2 linked regions of the Homo sapiens genome follow. The protein of the gene in region 1 binds, or shares a complex with, the protein of each later gene. Each region holds a gene or a part of one and is shown on either strand. Other genes may lie near its edges.

Region 1 (7,025 bases):
TTGTATTGTAATGGCCTGTGTTTGTGTTTCCTGCATAAGATGTAAACCTCACTAAAGCCAGGACTGTATCTTGTTCACCATTATATAACACAGTTTAAGAACCTTCCATGTACAATGCCTCACCTATAGTAGGCACTCAAATACTTGCTAAGTGAGTAACTGTAATATGAAAAGCTTAAATCATAAAGAGGGGTAAGGGAAGAAAAAACCTTTCCTGTTTATATGGTATGCTTTCTGTTTTCTTTAAATGATCCTTTGGGGAACTAAGTTTATATTCATTTTATCGCTGATGAGCTGCAAATTAAACTTTGAGTGACTTCATGACATCAAATCAGAAAGTAACTGCTTAACATTCTGTGCAACGTACAATGTACTATGCTAAATACTGTAAGGGGAATGGCAGTATATTACAGTGCCCCTCTAAGAGCTTTCTGTTTAACTGAACATATTATATAAACAGTTGACAATTATAAACAGCAGTAAGGTTTTTCTAAAGCTTAAGAGATGTTAAAACATTATGAGGAAAATGACACATGAGTAAGGACCTATTTTCTGAATTGCACAGGTGCTAATGCAGCCAGGAAACACAACAGGAGCAAAGAGGGGCCTGGCCTTATGCATGGAAGCTGAAGGACTGAAATTTGCATTTGATCATCTTCAACTTCTGGCACCTGTTGTCGCAGTTTTCTGAGTGCCCACTGAGCTATCCACAAGCTGGCCTCCTCTGAGGAGTACAACACTCCCAAACTACTTCTCTCAGCTTCCACCTAACTCTGCAGAACTCCCTTCCTTTAGCGAGACCAAACTTAGCTAGCAGTTAGAGGTCACCCAACTGTGCCAATTCCTACTAAATTGTAACAGAAAGCCCCCAGACCTCTGCAATTGAAAAAGAATCAGCCATACTTACCACCACTAGTACAAGAAGAAGGGTCCACAGCTAGCACAGATAATTTGTGCCCTCTCTCAGTAAGCATTTTTCCAAAATATTCTATAAATGTTGATTTTCCAGCACCAGGGGGCCCAGACAATCCTACGGTGGAAAGAGATCTTCTAATTCAATGAAACAAATGAAATCAGAACTACGATCAGTTTTACTGAGTAAAATATTAGACTACCTTCTATTTCCCCTAATGTATTAAAACCACAATTAATATATTTCAACATGTCCTAAAATGGCAAATAAAAATCTGTTTCTTTAATTCCTGAGTAATGGGGCTATAGGAAGGAAACACCCTGGGTTCCAAATGTTCACAAAATTCACTTTTAAAAACTACAAAACATGCTTTGCCTTTGTACTATAAAGTAGATCTTTCTGGACAGACTTCATTGTCTCCATTGTTAATGTGCTCAGTTTCTACATCTGCCCACCTCTCATCATGATCAGTAATTATTCTACCTACCTCAGTTCTGTATACTTCTTCCCACTGGAAAAACAACTCATTATTCTAGAAATTCCCAGTGATTGAGAAAGCAATTTTCTATTTATAAGGGATCATCTTTTTTCTTCATCTCACTCATAACTCAAAGAATATAAACTGAATTCTGAAAAAAATAATTTATGTTAAGAAAAGCAGAAAACTCCCCCACTTGGAGAGTTGGCAGTGCACGGCCGGTAAGAGCACAAACCCTGAAGCCACGCAGCCAGTTCTCATTCTAGCTCTGCCTCCCACGAGCTATGTGATCTTGGGTAAATTACTTAACCTCTTTCTATGCCTCAGTGTCCACTGCAATAAAATAGATATAGTAATAGTACCTCTCTCTTCAGGTTGTTTTAAGAATTAGATGAGTTAATGTCTGCAATATGTTTAGAACAGTGCATGGCATAAGAGACATATAAGTGTATGTTAAATGAAATATATAAAACATAGACATTTAACTAACTACACTCAAAATATGTATAGTGTATGGGATGCCTGACTCTTTACCACAATTCTTGGGGCAGATCCAATACTATCTTAAACACCTTTTTAGGTGCTGAATAAACATTTGTTGCTTTTACTTATGGTGGTGAAAAAAATAACTGCAATAAAGACAGGTTTATCTGGCCTCATAAGATCAAGATGGAAGAACTGGAATAGCACTACAAAGTTATCTGTGAACTGCTAGTTAATTCCACACATTTCTGAGACATTTTTTCACAGATTCTCTAAAATCTTAGTAAGTAGGCACTTTGTCATACCTAGAATTTCTCTGCGGGAGTTTGCTATTATCTTTGTTTACCATACATAAAGATTATTAACATCCAAGGTAGTACTCTCAAAATGAGAATCCCTCAGTAAGGGCAGAAGATTAAGAAGTCTGAAAAATGGGGACTGGTATAAATATTGGTTGGTGAGCTATTTTGAAATTATCTTAAAGCATCTATGCCCATTAACCTAAAAACTAGGAGGCTTTTGTGTCTGCATTGCCAATAAACTGTGAGACAAAGGTGTAATGTAACATGAAATTTTAAAAGTATTTACTCATTCTCCACAAAATTTTTGCACTTTAACCACCAAGACAAGTTGTTTTTAGCACGAGGGTTGGTTCAAATCACCTAGTTCACCACCGTGGGACATTCTCATTCCACCTAAACTGGCTTGTTTAATTCCTGCTGGTCAAACATATCTAAATTGTTTTACAATGCACAATTTCAAAAACAATTTCAGAACCAAGTCAAATTGTTCAAGAAATCAAATGAACATCTAATATACAGACAATAAATAAATATGATCTCTTTCTTAAAGTACATTTTGATAGGCTGGGCATGGTAGCCCATGCCTGTAGTCCCAGCACTTTGGTAGGCCAAGGTGGGAGGACTGCTTGAGCCCAGGAGTTTGATACCAGCCTGGGCAACATAATGAGACCCCATCTCTACAAAAAACTTCTAAAAAAAATTAGCCAAGGATGATGTTGGAGGCATGATATTGGAGCCAAGCATGATGTCAGAGCTATGATCACCACTGCATTCCAGCCTGGGTGATAGAGTGAGACTAAAAATAGCTGAGCACAGTAGTTCATGCCTGTAATCCCAGCACTTTGGGAGGCCAAGACGGGTGGATCACTTGAGGTCAGGAGTTCAAGACCAGCCTGGCCAACATGGTGAAACCCTGTCTCTATTAAAAATACAAAAATTAGCTGGGCATGGTAGTGCATGCCTGTAATCCTAGCTACTCGGGAGGCTGAGGCAGGAGAACTGCATGAACCTGAACCCAGGAGGCAGAGGTTGCAGTGAGCCGAGATCGCGCCACTGCACTCCAGCCTGGGCGACAGAGCAAGACTGTCTCAAAAAATAAAGTACAAAAATAAAAAATAAAAATAAATAAAATACATTTTGGTATTGAGAAGGCTGGGTTTACAGTCACTCCGAGAAACTCAATAAAAAGTACCTGAAGGAAGTGAGACTTGCCTATAGAAAGACTAATGAAATACCTAAGAGGCAGAATTTTCAAACGTGATAATTATAGTTGATACGACAACAAAACAGGGAATTCACTTTAAACTATTTAAGCAGAAGGACTACTAAAAGAAAAAGGAGTAAACTCACTAGTAGTTCTTCCTATGAATATTTCTGTCCTGGGATCCAGAGCAAGATTCTTGCCAAAGTAAAAATCTTATATTATTTTCTTAAAATACATAGCCTTGGTTCAAATGTCATGGCAATTTTTTCAACTTAACAAAACTAATATTTGCCAGGAAAACTCATTTAAAATTCATCCAAATATTGTGAAAAAAGTCGCCATTCGATTGCAAACTATTTAGACTTTTTTTTAAAAAACAGAATACAGAGAATTTGTAAAAATATTTACTGAGAAAACACACAAAAAAGACTGACCTACTCGAAATGCTAGTGGTTTTCCTTTATTTGATTGTTCTTGTTCTCTGTGGTAAAGTAATACTTTCTGAAGAAGCACCTGGGCTAACTCCTTTTTCCTGCTGTGAGTTGATTCTACAAGAGTTATGGCCTCTGCTAAACAGGCCCTTTGCCCTTGGATTAAACCAGTATAAAGTTTATCCACAAATCTTTGCTCTTTATCAGAAAGTCCTTCTGTGTGGTCCTTTAAGGTTGTTTGTACACATAATTTTCTCTTTAAGCCATCTGACAGCAGCATCCACTTTGTACAATGGAGTCCAAGAGAATTAAACGGCTGAGCACATGGGATTCCTGATCCGAGATGAGTACTTGAGTGAAAGATGAAGTGGTAACATCGGAAAGGTGCTCTTAAAAGGCCTTTTAGGAAATGCTGGTGAGGATGTGGTAGCAGCATGGGCATATTCGTTTTATTTGTAACTGGAGAAAACACTGGATGCGTTTTGGCTCAATGTGATTGTGACCTCCCTAGAAGAAAGAAAAACATGTTAGCCAGTTCGATATATAACTAAAATACTGAAGTAGTAAAATTTGAAAGCCTAGTGTTTCCCCCATATTCTAAACCACACATAATCAGAGTTTTTGGTAGTACAAATGGGTGAAAGTTTTCTTACTAAATAAACTTAAAAGAGAAGACTCCCTCCATGGCCACAGTTAATATTCAGAGTAACCCGAATAATGGAACTACTACTCTACTGCGAAGTGGAATTTACACTTTTTCTTCTAATAAAAACAATATATAAAATACCACTAGGGTAGAAACTTTATGTTATGCTTTCTCTTAAATTCGTCTTAACAGTTTCCTCAGGTCAATACACCAGATTCTGAAGCTCATACAAAAGGTTAAAAAAAAAAATGAATCTCTCTGATGCTGGCCTTGTATTCACTCTCTACAAAAAGAAATGTGATTACTACGGTGGGCACTTCAGGTGTAAGTTTAGATACATGTTTGTATTCAGTAGACTCATCCTTGAACACAGATGTATGCAAAGAGTAGCCTAACTTAAAGCACACAAACAAGCCATAAGTGAACTGTAGGTGTATCTCAAAGCATAGTCAGAGCCACCTGGGTGCTTATTTAAAATGCACATTCCCAGCCCCACTAATCAGAATCCCTGTAGATTCACACTAAAGTTTGAACCACTACGAAATTAGATAAGGATCTTTTTTTTTTGAGACGGAGTCTCACTCTCTCGCTCATGCTGGAGTGCAGTGGCGTCATCTCGGCTCACTGCAAGCTCCGCCTCCCGGGTTCACGCCATTCTCCTGCCTCAGTCTCCCGAGTAGCTGGGACTACAGGCACCTGCAACCACGCCCGGCTAATTTTTTGTATTTTTAGTAGAGACAGGGTTTCACTGTGTTAGCCAGGACGCTCTCGATCTCCTGACCTCGTGAGCCGCCCGCCTCGGCCTCCCAAAGTGCTGGGATTACAGGCATGAGCCCCCACGCCCGGCCATAAGGATCTTTTTTATGATGATATACTGATATTCTCTACTTCAAATTGTATTAAAAAATGAAAGTTGACATGGTATGCCGAGTCAGGGCAGTGCAGAGGTTATGAGCCGCGGTCACTATGAATCTCTGCCACTTAAGCCAAAATAACCTTAGGCAAGTTACTTGACCACTCTGTGCCTCAGCTTCCTCTTGAGTAAAGAGAATAGGTAAGAAAGCAGAGTGGTTGTGAGAGCAAAATGACAATTCTTGTAAAAAGCTTAGAACAGTGTCTACCATGCAGTAAGAGCTCAATTAACCTTAGCTTTTATTTTAATTACACCAAGTTATGAAACACTGGTAATAATTCTTCCAGTAGCAAACTAAAATTTACAGTTATATATAACTCACCCAGTTTGGGTTTATGAGTATTTGTAAATTTTGGTTGATTTTCAAGCACCTTGTGGCATGGTGGAATAAATTATTGCTCCAAGGTATACCTGTAAATGGCACTTCAAGGCCGATGAACATGAAATTAATTTTAGCTTCTTAACATTCTATTAGGGAAAAAAGAATAGTTTAAGATTTTTTAAACTGGTAGAACTATAAGTGCTCATCAGTTTTCCAAAAACAACAACTTTTTCTCTATGGGGCGGTGGGGTGGGGGGTGCATTATAATGTCTATTTGTACAAAATTAGCCTTATTCTAAAAGGACAATTAAAAATGTATAAAAGTGTTTCTAAAAAACAATTTTAAAAGATCTAATGTCACCTTTCACACAAACACACAAAAAGACATTTAAAACAAAACTTTAAGAGGGAGTCTACTTTGGAAGCTCTCTTTCAATACCACCTTTAAGCACAATTCTCATCAGCAGCACTACCACTACCAATAGACTGGAATCCCACAGGCAAGAACTGTATTTTTATTCAACCACTATTTTCTAAGAACATACTACTTTTCAGGTCCCATGATAGGTGATAAGAGTAATGGTGACTATAGCAATGGTACTGATGGTGATGACAATAGTATTTGATTATGTTCCAGCCATTATACCATAACCTTCTATTAATATATTAGTTCCCTATGGCTGCTGTAACAAATTACCATAATTACTGTAACAGAATTAGTTACTTAATTACATTGCAAAGACTCTTTTTCCAAATAGGGCCACATTCACAGGTTCCAGGGATTAGGATGTGGACATATCTTTTTGAAGGCCATCTTTCGACCTGCTACACTTTCTTAGGTACAATGCCTCGTTCATTATCTTATCTTAAATAACCTAATCCTAGCACTTCAAGAGCTCACAGAATAAAATACGTGACATCAAAGAAAGAACAAAGTGCCATGGGCACAGACAAGATTACAGGAGCTCACTCTCCTTGGGGAATTCAAGTCACAGAGGAGTTGAAGTCAAGACCGAGTCTGAAATAACAAAAATGTTGAAGAAGGTTGAGGCAGGCTTTCCAGTCTGAGGACTTAAATGTGCAAAATCAGAGTTGGGACTTGGTCTCTTCCCTGTCATCTCAGAGAAAATTAAGAAATTCAGTAAGGCAGAAGCCTAGGGTATATGGAACTACTGATAGGAGATGAGGCTGGACCGGAGGTAAACTGAGGTCAAGAAATTAAATTTTGTCTTGTGGGCAGTGGACAAATGACAGAGACCTTTTTGGAGGTGACATAATCAACTTTGCTTTTGAAGAGATAACTCTAGAAGCAGTGACACGAAGTCAAGAGTGA
Region 2 (6,981 bases), on another chromosome or scaffold:
AGCAAAACTGGTCTAACAGAGTTTGAGAAGTACTGTTAACAATGAAACCTACTTGAGGCACTAGACTATAGCACAAAGTTTCTCAACCTCAGCACTATTAACATTTTAGATGGATCATTCTTTGTTGTGGAGACTGTGGTGTGTATTGTAGGATGTTTAGCAGCATGCTTGGGTCTACGTAGACCGTCAGATGCTAGAATACTTCCAACCCCTGAGTAGAGCCAATCAAAATTGTTTCCAGACATTGCCAAATGTCTCCTGGGTCAAAATCAACCCAGGTTGAGAACACTACCATAATGGTTAAGAGCAGTCCTGCAACGAGGGTAAATTGTTCAAGCTCCAAATCTAGCCCTGCCACTTAATTAACTGTATATCTTTGGGCCAGTAAATTAACTCATTTTCCCCATTAGTAAAACGATTAATAAAAGTACTAACATTAAAGGCTTTTGTAAAGCAAAAATGATGTAACAAAGAATATATAAACCACCTAGAACGGTATTTGAGACATAGTAAGAATCCAATAAACAAAAGACATTGTTTCTATCACTTCTGGGCTACTCACAGTGCATATAAAAATGAATAGGTATTTTGTCCCATTCTTAGATCCAAGGGAAACCACAGCTTAGTGATAGTGCACAGGTAGAGACAGATATGAAAATAATTACTATGTGTATTTATAAATGTTATAAAGAGGCAAGTGAGCGAATGACTGTCTTAAACTGGTTTGTGCTATGGGTAAGAATGTACAGGCATAACTCTTTTTATTGTGTTTCACTTTATTGAGCCTCGCAGACACTGTATTTTGTTGTTGTTGTCTTACAAACTAAAGGTTTGTGGCAAGCCTGCACTGAACAACTATATTGATGCCATTTTTCCAACAGATTGTGCTCACTCTTCACATTTCTGTGTCATATTTTGATAACTCTCACAATATTTCAAACCTTTTCATTATTATATCTGTTATGGTGATTGATGTTACTCTGTAATTGTTTTAGGGCACCATGAACCATGCCAATATCAGACAGAGAACTTAATAGGTAAATGTTGCGTTGTGTTTTGACTGCTCCACCAACTGGCTGTTCCCTGCCTCTCTCCCTCTCCTTAGGCCTCCCTATTCCCTGAGACACAATGATATTGAAATTAGGCCATTTAATAACCCTACAATGGCCTCTAAGTGTTCAAGTGAAAGCAAAAATCACACCTCTCTCACTTTAAATTAAAAGCTAGAAATGTTTAAGCAAGGTGAGGTAGGCATGTCAAAAGCCAAGATAGGCTGGAAACTACACCAGTTAGCCAAGCTGTGAATGCAAAGGAAAAGTTCTTGAAGGAAATTTAAAGTGCTATTCCAGTGAAGACATGAATGATAAGAAAGCAAAAACAGCCTTATTACTGATAGGGAGAAAGTTTGAGTGGTCCGGGATTGAAGATCAAACTAGCCACAACACGCCCTTAAACCAAAGACGAATTCATGGCAAGGTCTTAACTCACTTCAATTCTATGAAAGCTGAGAGAGGTGAGAAAGCTGTAGCAAAAGAGCCTGAAGCTAGCAGAGCTTGGTTCCTGAGGTTTAAGGAAGTAAGCTATCTGCATAACATGAAAGTACAAAGTGAAGCAGCAAGTGCTGATGCAGAAGCTGCAGCAAGTTATCCAGTTCTAGGTAAGATAATTGATGAAGGGGCTACACTAAACAACAGATTTTCAATGAAGACAAAACAGCCTTCTATTGGAAGATGCTATCTAGGACTTTCATATCTAGAAAGAAGTCATTGCCTGGCTTCAAAGCTTCAAAAGACAGGCTGACTCTCTTGTAGGGGCTAATATGGGTGGTGACTTGAAGCCAATGCTCATTGACCATTCTGAAATATCCTAGGGCTCTTATTCTTTTAAATCTACTCTGTCTGTGCTCTGGAAATGGAAGAACAAAGCATGAGTGACAGCACATCTGTTTACAGCACGGTTTACTGAGTATTTTAAGCCCATCTTTGAGACCTACAGCTCACAAAAAGATTCCTTTCAAAATAATACTGCTCAATGACCACGTACTTGGTCACCCAAGAGCTCTGATAGAGATGTACAAGGAGATTAATGCTGTTTTCATGTCTGCTAACACAACATCCATTCTGCAGCCCATGAATCAAAGAATAATTTTGACTTTCAAGTTATATTATTTAAGAAATACATTTTGTAAAGCTATAGCTGCCCTAGACAGTGATTCCTCTGATGGATCTGGGCAAAATAAATTGAAAACTTCTGGAAATGATTCACCATCCCAAATGCTAGTAAGAACATTCATGATTCACGGGAGGAGGTCAAAATATCAACATTAACAGGAGTCTGGAAAAAGTTGATTCCAACCCTCATGGATGACTTTGTAAAGGTCATGACTTTGTTCAAGACTTCAGTGGAGGAAGTGATGAAAGATCTGGTGGCAATAGCAAGAGAAATAGTGGAGCCTGAAGATGTACCTGAATTGCTGCAATCTCATGATAAAACTAGTGGAAAAGAAGTTGCTTCTTATGAATGAGCGAAGTTCTTGAGATGGAATCTACCCCTGGTGAAGATGCTGTGAATATTCTTGAAATATCAACAAAGAATTCAGAATATCACAAAACCTTAGTTGCTAAAGCAATGGTAGGGGTTAAGAGGATTTACTCTAATTTTGAAAGAAGTTCTACAGTGGGTAAAATGCTTTCAAACAGCATCACATGCTACAGAGAAATCTTTAGTGAATGGAAGAGTCAACTGCTGTACAAAATTCATTATTTTGTTATTTTAAGAAACTGCCACAGCAACTCCAATCTTCAGCAACCATCACCCTGATTGGTCAACAGCCATCAACATCAAGCAAGACCCTCCACCAGCAAAAAGATTAGGACTTGCTGAAGGCTGAGATGATTAGTAGCATTTTTTAGCAATAAAATATTTTAAAATTACAGCATGTAATTTTTTTTTACACATAATGCTATTGCACACTTAATAGGTTACAATACAGTGTAAATACAACTGTTATATGCACTGGGAAACCAAAAAAATCGTGTGACAGGCTTTATTGGTCTGGAACCGACCCCGCAATATCTCGGAAGTATGTTTGTACATTATTCATAGAAAAAGTATTATTCTAATAACATTTTGAAATATTTAGCCAAAAAGTAGAAAAATGAAGCATCCAAGGGAAAACAGTAAAACTCGGACGGCAGGAAAGCTCGGAAAAAACACAAAAAACCTGGCGTGTTCAGGGACAGGATAATCCAGCGAGGCTTTTAATGTGTATAGGAGAAGTGAAAAGAAATAAGGCTGGTACAGTAGTTTGCCGCCAGACTATATGCTTTAGGAGAGAGGGAGGCATTCTAGGTTGTCTTGTTTTTCTTACCAGCTTGTTGATACTCATGGGACTCAATTACCTCAATTTAGACCTCTATGTGGGCACAAGAGTGAGTAGGACTCCTGGAGAAACACAGACACTAATGTCCAAGGCTGCACTTGACTTCACTAGTGCCCGCGGGAGAAATTTAGCAATGAGGATGAGCCATGAGGATGATTCGGGAGAAATAGGAAGTATTCATGGCTTTGCTCCCTCCCCCCTAATCAAACATCTCAATCTCAGGATCCTAAGGGCAGATCTTTTAGGACATCGGGCATTTCCCCGTAAGCAATCCCCCCTCGCTATCCTCAAATGCAAACTGCGGAGTCTGCCACAAACGCGTTGGCTTTAAAACTCATCCCTGAACTTTAGATCCACCCAGCCGGTTAAGGATATCACGACTCACCACTGATTCTTCTTGCACCCTTCTGAGAGCCGCGCTTAGAGTAATTCGCGCCCAAACATTCGTAAACAGAGGAGACCCGGAAGTGGGTGGGAAGAAAGCGGAAACGGGCATCTAACCCTACCCCTAAACGTCATCAGGAATGCGCCCATGAGAGCGCTATTAGATTGGCTGGAGGGAGGGCGGTGTCGGCCTACGCCCCCAGAGTCGTCCGGCTGACGCTGGCGGTGGCGCGGTTTGTGTGGGCTTGGTGAGGGCGGGGAGGCCTGGCTGTGTGGATGTCTGACAGGTGAGGCGGGGGACGCAGAAGTGCAGCCGCCCTCTCCCACAGCGGAGTCCAAAACAGGCCTACCAGTGAGTAGGACGTACACCTTTCAGATCGCTCCATTCTTCTGGCTCCTGTCCCTCCTCTACCCCTGTATTTTGAACTTTTGTCCTTTCTCTCCCGCTCTGTCCTTTACTTCTGTCTTCTTTACCTTCCTACTGTGACGGGATCCCACTCTCTGCCTTCTCCTTAGGTTTAGATTTTCACTTCGACCAACCTCTAGTTTTGGGCGAAGTCCCTGGCAATTCGGAGGTACTTCTGGAAAGAAGGTGCTTTTAATACTTTAGGGGCCATGTCGGTATCTTCTTTGGCCACTTAAGCACCCTGAACTGTTCCCGTTGGCAGAGGTCACTTTTTGTATGGTTCCAAAGGGATGCGCCTGCTTCATGGCTGCCTCCCTTCTAGGTTGTGGGTTATGTTATTGTCAGGGTTTTTCTAAGAGTTTTCGGGAATAAAAGTGATTTTCTGTGTGTAAACAGGATTAAGAGTGTAAACAGTGTTAAGAGTGAGAGGTAGAATAGAAAAGACAGGTCTAAATTGACATAAAAGCTTACATTACTAACTCGTTCTCAGTTTTATCTAGAAAGAAGGTGGTCTTAGGGAAGCTCGAAGCCCTGGATAACGTATGTGTGTAAAGTTTTAAACCACTTGATGATTTTCTGCCAATATAATTTTGTGTTTAATGATGTACTTATGCTAATATCAAATATAATTTTCATGCCCTATGTTTCCATCTCCAAACCCAACTAGTTGAACATCAAAGTACCTTCTTGAAGTATTAATGTGCAATCATACGTCAGCAGCCAAAGCTTGAAACTTATTGGTTCAAGAAATCTTTTTCTCACTGATTTGTTTTTGAGGTGTGGGGGTGGGATTAATCATTGCTCTTTAACTCATTTTAGTTGTCAGTAACATATTTGCTTTGCATGTTGCTTCTTTGAATGCTTGAGGCCTCTCTTGATGGTCTTCTGAGAAAATTCAGAGGTCGTATTGCCATCCGCAGTAGTTGTGTTTTTATCTAAAAATGGTGTCTGTTTCCAGCCTCCACCAATTCACATGTGATTTTCAGGAAGTCACTTAAACGGGGCTCTTTCCTATTAGTTGTTCAGATTTAGGAAAGCCCACGTGAAATGAGTGTGATATTTCCTGCCAACAGTTTAGTCTCAGGTGGTTTTCAAATTACCTTTTACAGGATTACTATTGAAACAGTTTAGTTGTTGCTTCATTATTTTTTTCATCCACCTTTTAAGCTAGTAAATGTAGTGGATGGCTTGCAAAAAGATGGATGACAAGGACCCCATGGATTTAAAGAATAAAAATCGTGCTAGTATTAAAAAAATGGAAGGTTTTTTTGTTTTGTTTTGAGACGGGGTCTCTCTCTGTTGCCCAGGTTGGAGTGCAGTGGCACGATCTCTGCTCACTGCAACCTCTGCTTCCCGGGTTGAAGTGATTCTCATGCCTCAGCCTCCTGAGTACCTGGGATTACTGGTGTGCGCCACCATGCCCAGCTAATTTTTGTATTTTTAGTAGAGACTGGGTTTCACCGTGTTGGCCAGGCTGGTCTTGAACCCCTGACCTCAGGTGATCCACCTGCCTCGGCCTCCTGAAGTGCTGGGATTCCAGGCGTGAACCACCATGCCCAGCCTTTTTTGTTATGTTTCCATTTAGACTTTGTTCTATGTACTTTTTACATAGTTGAACCTGTTGCACTTACAATTACGTGTCTTGAGTCTTTTACTTACTACTTTTTGAGTTTGTTTCTCTTTTTTTGGGAAACTATGCATAACACATTTTTAACTTTTTACTTATACATATATTTACAGAAACTGCATAAAACATAACTGTATAATTTGATGAATTTCCACAAACAGAATATATCTATGTAAGTGGCAATCAGATCAAGACCATTACCCCCAAAAGCCCCTCTCTTGCTCCTGTTGTATTCTAGCAACCATTAAGTAACCATTCTTCTGACTTCTGACATCAAAGATTAGTTTTGCCAGCTTTCTAAACATATTTTGATAACTACATGAAATTCTATCATTTGTATATGCTGTAATTCACTTATTCATATGTTATGAGATACTTACGATTTTCCTAAGTTTTCTCTATTACAAATAAAACTATAGGAAACATCTATTTTATATATTACTACAGAAGCTTTCCCAGGAGTAATGTTCCTCAGTGGAATGGCATAAACATTTCTGAAGCATTTCATGTATATTGACAATTTACTTTCCAAAGTAGTTAAAATAGTTAATACTGTCACCAGTGGTTTATGTCTCTTGTTTAACGACCCCATAATAAGTGTTGAGTATTGATTTCATTTAAGCTTTACTAAACTGATAGGTAAGAAGTGGTATGGAAAATAAAATTTGAAACTCCCTTTACTTGTTGCCTTATCCAGTATAAAACACATAGTATAGTGAATATATTAATGTTTGCATCTCAATATCTTTTTAAACAATGGGCTCTATATGTTTACGCTGTATGACTCTGACAAGTTTTAGTAATTCAGGTAAACAGTTTACGGCTTTGTGAGGTGGGATTTTGATCAAGCGACTTTATTTCTCTGAGCCTCAGTTTCTACATCTGGAAAATGATGACGCTGAACCCAGCAACCTAGTATAAAAGTCTATGCTAGTTATCCGGAATATGCAGCTCTAATGTTGGAGCAGTTTATAAACTAGCACAGAAGTAGATTATTGAAGAGGCCATTTAGCTCACCTTATGGGTTCTGGGATGAATTGTGTGCATATTAGTTAAATGCAAGGACTTTGAAACAGGCTGCATAGGTTCCAATCAATGCTGGCTCTTCTGTGCCTCAGTTTCCTAATCTGTAAAATAAGGATAATAATAGTACCTACCTCTTAGGGGTATTGTAAAGATTAA

The links.
Region 2: the proteins of MMAA (region 1) and MMUT are in contact, whole or in part, in a crystal structure (PDB 8GJU), measured with the Homo sapiens proteins. Residues at the interface, in NP_001362573.1 of Homo sapiens: Arg98, Ala99, Ala102, Glu103, Thr106, Glu109, Ser110, Thr111, His112, Ser182, Ser186, Gly187, Gly188, Ser189, Leu190, Leu191, Lys194, Thr195, Met197, Thr198, Ser201, Arg202, Met204, Tyr207, Ile208, Arg209, Pro210, Ser211, Pro212, Arg214; in NP_000246.2 of Homo sapiens: Lys496, Glu609, Arg610, Glu611, Gly612, Arg613, Arg614, Arg616, Ala635, Thr636, Ala639, Asp640, Gly642, Phe643, Asp644, Val645, Asp646, Ile647, Gly648, Pro649, Leu650, Phe651, Gln652, Glu656, Gln659, Gln660, Val662, Asp663, Ala664, Asp665.

What each region holds. Positions count from the first base shown.
Region 1 is NC_000004.12:145,636,368-145,643,392, reverse strand, and holds part of MMAA (methylmalonic aciduria type A protein, mitochondrial precursor), read right to left. Parts: intron 5,794-7,025; exon of another isoform or gene 5,693-5,793; intron 4,319-5,692; 5' UTR 4,254-4,318; coding exon 3,815-4,253; intron 1,031-3,814; coding exon 908-1,030; intron 1-907. UniProt on the Homo sapiens protein: GTPase, binds and hydrolyzes GTP. Involved in intracellular vitamin B12 metabolism, mediates the transport of cobalamin (Cbl) into mitochondria for the final steps of adenosylcobalamin (AdoCbl) synthesis.
Region 2 is NC_000006.12:49,460,240-49,467,220, reverse strand, and holds the start of MMUT (methylmalonyl-CoA mutase, mitochondrial precursor), read left to right. Parts: upstream 1-3,967; 5' UTR 3,968-4,118; intron 4,119-6,981. UniProt on the Homo sapiens protein: Catalyzes the reversible isomerization of methylmalonyl-CoA (MMCoA) (generated from branched-chain amino acid metabolism and degradation of dietary odd chain fatty acids and cholesterol) to succinyl-CoA (3-carboxypropionyl-CoA), a key intermediate of the tricarboxylic acid cycle.